2 linked regions of the Homo sapiens genome follow. The protein of the gene in region 1 interacts with the protein of each later gene in a pairwise test. Each region holds a gene or a part of one and is shown on either strand. Other genes may lie near its edges.

The links. The genes of interacting proteins can lie anywhere in the genome.
Region 2: the proteins of KRTAP19-7 (region 1) and BAHD1 interact in binary tests that used the Homo sapiens proteins (3 or more experiments, as listed by UniProt).

Annotation. Positions count from the first base shown.
Region 1 is NC_000021.9:30,559,217-30,563,289, reverse strand, and holds KRTAP19-7 (keratin-associated protein 19-7), read left to right. Parts: upstream 1-1,975; 5' UTR 1,976-2,000; coding exon 2,001-2,192; 3' UTR 2,193-2,415; downstream 2,416-4,073. UniProt on the Homo sapiens protein: In the hair cortex, hair keratin intermediate filaments are embedded in an interfilamentous matrix, consisting of hair keratin-associated proteins (KRTAP), which are essential for the formation of a rigid and resistant hair shaft through their extensive disulfide bond cross-linking with abundant cysteine residues of hair keratins.
Region 2 is NC_000015.10:40,457,591-40,461,479, forward strand, and holds part of BAHD1 (bromo adjacent homology domain-containing 1 protein), read left to right. Parts: intron 1-860; coding exon of another isoform or gene 861-874; coding exon 875-2,306; intron 2,307-3,889.

The DNA.
Region 1 (4,073 bases):
AGTCCTATCAGTGCCAAGTGGGAGGTCGTGTGAGCTGAGAATGAGAAGAGGCAGATGACTTGATGCTTCGTGGACAGGCAAAGTTCACATACGTGTTAGCTTCACTTTTAGGAATCAAATAAAGCAGAGGACCCTAGAAAATAATTCCTAGATTGGAGGTTCTGGGATCTTCTATTCCTGATAATAATATTTTCCCTACCAAGCAAATATATCTGGTTTTATCTGGATTGTGACAAGTGCTAAAGATAATAGTCTTTTTAAAAAATTACCTAAAATTATATTGAACCTACATTTTCTTAACTGAAGCAAATTCAAATACAGCAATTCTTTACCATTAATAATTCCCTTCAACTTGTAGTTTGCAAAGTTCCCTCAGGATGGAAATATGTTAAGTACCTAGTTATGTAGCACTTTTAATAAACTGGTAAAGGAAATAAGTTTAATCAGTATAAATGAAGTTCAAAAATAACCTGTATTCTTTGAGGTTCCTGGATAAAGAAAATGTGGCACATATATACCATGGAATACTCTGCAGCCATAAAAAAGGATGAGTTCATGTCCTTTGCAGGGACATGGATGAAGCTGGAACCACCATTCTCAGCAAACTAACACAAGAACAGAAAAGCAAACACCACATGTTCTCACTCATAAGTGGGAGTTAATCAATGAGAACACATGGACACAGGGAGGGGAACATCACACACCAGGGCCTGTCAGGGGGTGGGGGACTAGGGGAGGGACAGCATTAGGAGAAATACCTAACATAGACGATGGGTCGATGGGTGCAGCAAACCACCATGGCACATGTATACCTATGTAACAAACCTGCGCGTTTTGCACATTTACCTCAGTACTTAAAGTGTATATATACATACATACATGTATATATATATATATACATATATATATATATATAGCAGGAGTAGCTGAGCATATATGCTTACTGGTTTCATGTCATTTGCTTTTATTTATATTGATGATATGAAACAAAAATATAAGGCAGCTGGGCATTGTGGGAGAAGATATACCCTAACCTGCAATCTTTGATTTCAAATGCATCTGCTGAACTAAGGCCAATAATCAAAGTACTTAGGTTTTAGTCCTAATCTGCCACTAAGTTTCACTGTTGCGTAACTCTGCTTGTCTCTCTGAATCCATTTTTCTCATCAGTAACAAGAACACTGAAATAAATGATGACTCAAGTCTCTTTAATTCTATAATTATATGATCCTATGATAGTACGAAATTTAGAATCTAGACTAAGATTAAATTTGGGGAGAGGAAACTATTCATAAGGGATTGGCAGGGACTTTATGCACACTTTAATGGTATCTACTAAGCAGGCTGGCTCTACATGAAGCATAATATTTGAGAAATTCCTTTGACATTAATTTGTGACTCTTTTAAAAATTAAATATCATCATTCCACTATAAAATGTGGTTCCCAGCTGACTTTAAAAGCACATTGTATAAAGACATACATCATAGTTGATTGCCATTTCAGAGAACAATAATGTTTCAATTTTTGTGAATTCTTGGCAGAATAAAGATAACATCCTTGGCTTAGAAAAGGCTCAGCAGCCATGGACTGTCAAAGGAAAGAGTGCAATCAGAGGATAAATGTAATTGCATGAGATGCAATTTGAAGAATACTTGAAGCTATAGAGATTTGTTTATGGCATTTGAAACTCAGAAACTCATACATGTACAGTGAATATAAATGCAACTACATTTTATTAGAGGCAAAACACTTATCTAGAAATCCAAATAAAGCAGAAAATAAAACATGTTGTATAATTTCTAAATAACTAGCTTCATAAACAAGGAAGAGAGTGGGATGGGTGTTACAAAACAAGATAGTTGGCATAGTTTTCAGGTAACACGTTCTAAGGGATGACATTTAAAGGTGTGGCTTTCCACATGCATCAGAGTATATATAAATGTTCCTGTCCAGTCACAGTCACCAAACTGACCTACAACAGCTAACCACTTCTGACAACATGAGCTACTCCGGCAGCTACTATGGAGGCCTAGGCTACGGCTGTGGAGGATTCGGTGGCCTGGGCTATGGCTATAGCTGTGGATGTGGCAGCTTCCGCAGACTGGGCTATGGCTGTGGCTATGGAGGCTACAGATACAGCTGCTGCCACCCATCATGCTATGGGGGATACTGGTCTTCTGGATTCTATTGAATAAATACTTGAAATATAGTCTTCTGTGAGATTCCCAATTCTTCCAAGAAACTTTATTCCATAACCATATGGAATTCCATATTCCATAACAAAACAGCTGCTTGGATCACCTGCCTTTTGACAATAGTGTGAAGAAAACTTGATCAACTAGATATTGGCATTTGATTAGTGATGTTCTCCAGATATTCACTTTTTTATTGGCTGGAGAGCCATTATACTCTAAGAAAGATTGTCTTTCAATATCTGATATCTAACCATGAACTTTTTCTCATGTGGTAAATGTGTTTTGAGCCTCAAATTTTTATCACAATAAATGTGCTGTGATGCATTAATATAATCAACCATGGTGATATTTTCTTCTTATAGATAAAAAAATTACCAATACGTTATATGTCACGATTATTTCTTCACCCTCCTCCTCCTCGTCATTCTTCCTGTCCCTTAAACCTTCTTCCTCCCTTTCCATCCCTTTCCTCTCCTTTATCTTCTTTTCTTTATCCCCTTCTCCTTTGTCTTCTTCCTCCTCCTCATCTTTAACATTCTCAATATCTATATTTTCTTGTCCAGGCAAACAGGAATTCTACACCAAAAGGTTAAAGATGCTTCTGTGGTGATAAACTTCTGCTTAATCTTTTAATTCACTATTTCTTGGAGAATATCTTGATAATTTCAGAGCAATATAATAAGAAAAGGTTTTAGCTTGCACATAGATTATAACATTGGAGAACAACAGTGTGAAGGAATTATATCAAAGTATTAACAATAGCTTTATCTAGGAGATGGGAATATGGTGGCTGGTGTAATAGTTATTCTTTCTTCTTTTGTGTATGTTTAAAAAATTGCATAGAAAAAAAGCTATAAAACAAAGCTCGGGCCAATTTATTCCATCTTCAAATACATATTATCTGATTAAATTAAATGTATAAAAAGTGGACCCAAGAAGAAATACGAACCTGAATATTTCTATATGTCATAAAGAAGTGGAATTCATGAATCCATTTTGACAAATATGCAAATTTAAGACTAGATGATTTCACCAGTTAATTCTGAACAGTTTCTCTTTCAGAGAATAAGATAAGATAAAACACTAAGACTCTTCTGTACTTTTTTTTTAAGGTTAGCTGTATTAGTTCATTCTTCCATTTCTATAAAGAAATACCTGAGACTGGGTAATTTATAAAGAAAAGAAGTTTAATTGGCTCATGATTCCTCTGGCTGTACAGGAAGAATGATGCAGGCCATCTACTGGTCTCCAGGGAAGGCCTCAGGAAACTTACAATAATGGTGGAAGAGGAAGGGGAAGCAGGTGGAAGGTGAAGGGCAAACAAGAAATCATGGTGGAGCAGGAAGAAGAGAGAGAAAGTGGAGGTGCTATACACTTTTAAACAACCAGATCTCATGGGAACTCACTCACTGTCATGACAGCACCAAGGCGGACAGTGTTAAACCATAAGAAACTGCCCCCATGAGCTAATCATCTCCCACCAGGCCCCACCTCCAGCACTGGGGATTACAATTCGACATGAGATTTGGATGGGGACACTAATCCAAAGAATATCATTCTGCCCCCTGCCCCTCCCAAATCTCATGCCCTTCTCACATTGCAAAATACAATGATTTCTTCTCAACATCCCCCAAAATCTTAACTCATTCCAGCATTAACTCAAAAGTTCTCAGTCCAAAATCTCATTTGAGACAAGGCTAGTCTCTTCCACCTATGAGCCTGTAAACTCAAAAACAAATTAGTTACTTCCAAGAAACAATGAGGGTATAGGCAATGGGTAAATACTCCCATTCCAAAAAGGGAGAAATCATCCAAAAGAAAAGGGCTACAGGCACCATGTAAGTTTAAAACCCAACAGGGCAGTCATTAAATCTTAA
Region 2 (3,889 bases), on another chromosome or scaffold:
CCCAGCAGGCAGGGTCCCCATCTCAGCTCTTCACTGTCTGTCTTCTTGTCCTCCTGTGGCCAACCTCAGAAGCCCTGCGTTTGGGGAGGGGATTGTTAATGCCTTGGTTATACTTTTGGAAGAATAGATGGACTCCTGGCCGGGGGCAGTGGCTCACGCCTGTAATCCCAGCACTGTGGGAGGCCGAGGCGGGCAGATCACGAGGTCAGGAGATCGAGACCACCCTGGCTAACACGGTGAAACCCCCTCTCTACTAAAAATACAAAAGAAAATTTAGCGGGGCGTGGTGGCGGGCACCTGTAGTCCCAGCTACCCGAGAGGCTGAGGCAGGAGAATGGCGTGAACCTGGGAGGCGGAGCTTGCAGTGAGCCAAGATCTCACCAATGCACTCCAGCGAGACTCCGTCTCTCAAAAAAAGAAAAAAAGAAGAAAGAATAAATGGACTTCTACCACCCAGTCCCCCATCTTGGGAGGCTCTGTCTTCAGAGCCTCTTCCTATCCTGTGATGAATATCTAGTGAGAGAAGGACAGGGGGAGAGAACAAAGAGCTTTGCCACCAGCTCCTCCTATCCCCTGTCCCTGGGGTCTGCCTTGCTCCCTAGGCTCTTCAGGGGCTTAGTTCAGAGATACCCTAGGCTAAAAGGAAAGAGGAGGAACCAGTCCTTGCACAGCTGCTGGTAGCTTGATTCCACTGCCCCTTCACACTCTGGAAAGGGAGTCCCAGGAAAATCCATACTGGAGACAGGGTAGTTGTAGGCCAGGATCACTGCACCTGGGGCTGGGTAGGCTGCAGTGGGAGAGAAAGCAGGCAGGAGCAGGCCAGAGAGGGCTTCTCTCATTGCCCACCTTCTGTCCTGCAGGTTGGAAGTACTCCATGACACACACTCGGAGAAAGTCCCTTCCCATGCTGAGTTCGGGCCTCACTGGCCGCCGAGAGCCCCTGCAGATGGAAGACAGCAACATGGAGCAGGGGGTTGAGGGTGTGGAGCCAGGCATGCCCGAGAGCCCAGGTCACCTCACAGGGCGCCGCAAGAATTACCCACTTCGTAAGCGCCCATTGGTTCCTGAGAAGCCCAAGGCCTGCAAAGTGCTGCTGACTCGCCTGGAGAATGTGGCCGGTCCCCGGAGTGCAGATGAGGCTGATGAGCTACCGCCTGACCTGCCCAAGCCCCCCAGCCCGGCCCCATCCAGTGAAGACCCTGGCCTTGCCCAGCCCCGCAAGCGGCGCCTGGCCTCCCTCAATGCTGAAGCTCTCAATAACCTGCTGCTGGAGCGAGAGGACACCAGCAGCCTGGCAGGCACCCGCCGCAGTCGAGCAGGGGATCCCCACCGCAGCCGTGACCGTGATCGTGCTACTGGGGGCTGGTCCTCCTCCAAGAAGCGGCCCCGGCTGGGGGACCTTGGAGGAGGAAGTCGGGACCTGTCTCCAGAGCCAGCACCCGATGAAGGTCCCCGCCGAGATGGAGACCCAGCTCCCAAGAGACTGGCTAGCCTGAACGCAGCTGCTTTCCTAAAACTGAGCCAGGAGCGGGAGCTACCCCTGCGGCTGCCTCGTGCCCATGCAGAAGTAGATGGGCGCTCCACTGAGCCCCCAGCACCCAAGGCCCCGAGGCCAAAGTGGCCCAAGGTCAATGGCAAGAACTATCCCAAGGCTTGGCAGGGGGCCAGCTCTGGGGAGGCTGCAGGCCCACCTGGCTGGCAAGGCTGCCCTGATGAACCATGGCCATCTGCAACTCCTTGTGGGCCATCCGTCCAGCCATCTCATCAGCCCCTGAGCAAGGCTCTGGAGAGCCCTTTGGGGCTGCGCCCTCACCTGCCCCTGCTGATGGGTGGACAGGCGGCTCTGAAGCCGGAGCCTGGGCGCCCAGGCGAGGAGTCACCTGCCCCTAAGCAGGAACTGCATCAGCCCTCTTTCCCCACACCTCAGCTGTCGCCGCTGCCGATGCCTGGCAACCCCGCCGACTACAATGGCCTGTGTGTTGGGCCTGAGCTCACTGCACTAGGCAGCTTCTACCTGTACTGTGGCCAAGAGGGGCTGCAGTGTGGGGGCTACTCGCCCTGCCCCATGCTTCCTGAGGGCAAGCTGTCCCCAGTGGCTGCACCTCACGAGGAGGGGCTCCTCTTAGCTCCGAGCTCAGTGCCCTCAGGCACCCCTTTCCAGCACCCTCCCTGGGGCTCCTCTCGCTACTGCTCTAGCGAGGACACTGGAGTGAATGGCTACAGCATCTGCGGAGTGTTGCCCCTGTCTGTTACCCACGCTGGCACTACCTGTGGCGGCTGCCCATACAAAATGCCTTTTGCAGCAGGTGAGGCTTCCTGGGCCCAAGATGTACTGGGGAGTCTCGGAGACATGGCATCCCAGGAGGTTGGGCTGTTGATCTGAGCAGGGGTCTCCCTTGGGGTCTGGCTGCTAACTGGAAGGTAGGGGGCTTTCAGAAGTGAGAACTCCCGTAGTCTGTGCCCCAAGCCGAGGAGCATTCCCAAGAACAGGGCCCGTATAGCTCTGGACAGCCTTGCTCTGCCCAGGCTACCTTTGGAGATTCTTGGCCTGGCAGTTAGGTAGCATTGCAGTGGTACAGGCCACAGGAAGGCCTCTCTTCTCTCCTCATTGGGATACCCGTTCTTAGACTCTGAAGAGCAGGTTAGATATTGGAATTAGGACTTTTACCAAATTGTTCTCACGGCCCTTCTACCCTCCTTGAGGAAAGCTAGAATTCCCTAGTTTCTAGAAACCAGTACTCTCTGCATGCTGGCCAAGTTCAGCATTCATGGGAAAGGTGGTAGGTACCAGGCTCAGTAGGTGGTACCTACTGCACAGGGCAGCTTTGCCCTGGCTATAGAGGCATTGAAAGAGAAGTGCCCAGACTGAGCATCACTTTGCTGGGTGTGGATAGAGAGGGTGCACCATGAGAACAGACAAGCAGAGTTCCCTGACATGGATGGAATGCGATCAGGGCCCACAGCTTTGGTGTCTGCCTGCCTGACAAGACCCAGACACCTGAGAGGCCCATGCTCCGGCTGTTGAGACACTCCCAGAATCATTTCTCTTCCCTAAACTGGCAGAGGTATCCTCACCTGCCTCTTCAGGCTCCCTGCCTGCCTCCTGGGTGGAAATGAGACATGCTGGCCAGCAGGTCTGCCCTGCTGCTGGGGAGGTGAGGGCTGGACCTTCCAGATCTCCCTTCCCCTGACATCCTTTCTTGTAGGGGTCTATAAAACAACTTTATAGACCAGTTGGCCCTGGCCAGACTGGTTGTTTCAGGTTGTGGCTTGAGTTAGAGTTCTTATGACATGAGAACAGGCTGCTGCTTGGGGTTTTCCTTCTTTTTTTGTGCCATTCCCCAAGTCTAGACCCTTATCCCCTCTCCCTAATAATAAGGACACCAGTAAACACCATGTACCAGGCACTGTTCTGAGTGCTTTACATATGGGAGGCTGCTTGGCATGTAATTGAGCACAGACTCCGAAGCCAGACTGCCTGGAGTGAAATGTTCTCCCCCACTTTCCTAGCCATGTGACTATGGGCGAGTCAGTAACTGCTCTGTGTCTCAGTTTTCTTAACTATAAAATGGGTGTAATGATACCTATCTCACAGGGTTTTTGTAAGGATGAAATGAGTTAATGTGTTCGTAAGAAAACCAGCCAGTTGCTCTGAGGGGCAGAGTGACTTGCCTGAAGTCACATGGCTAGTAAGTGGCAGAACCCAGGCTGATTCTAGAACCCCTATTCCCAAGCATTATGAAAGCCTTAGAAAATTAATATCAGGGCCAGGCGCGGTGGCTCATGCCTGTAATCCTAGCACTTTGGGAGGCTGAGGCGGGCAGATTGCCTGAGCTCAGTAGGTTGAGACCAGCCTGTCTAACATGGTGAAACCCTATCTCTACTAAAC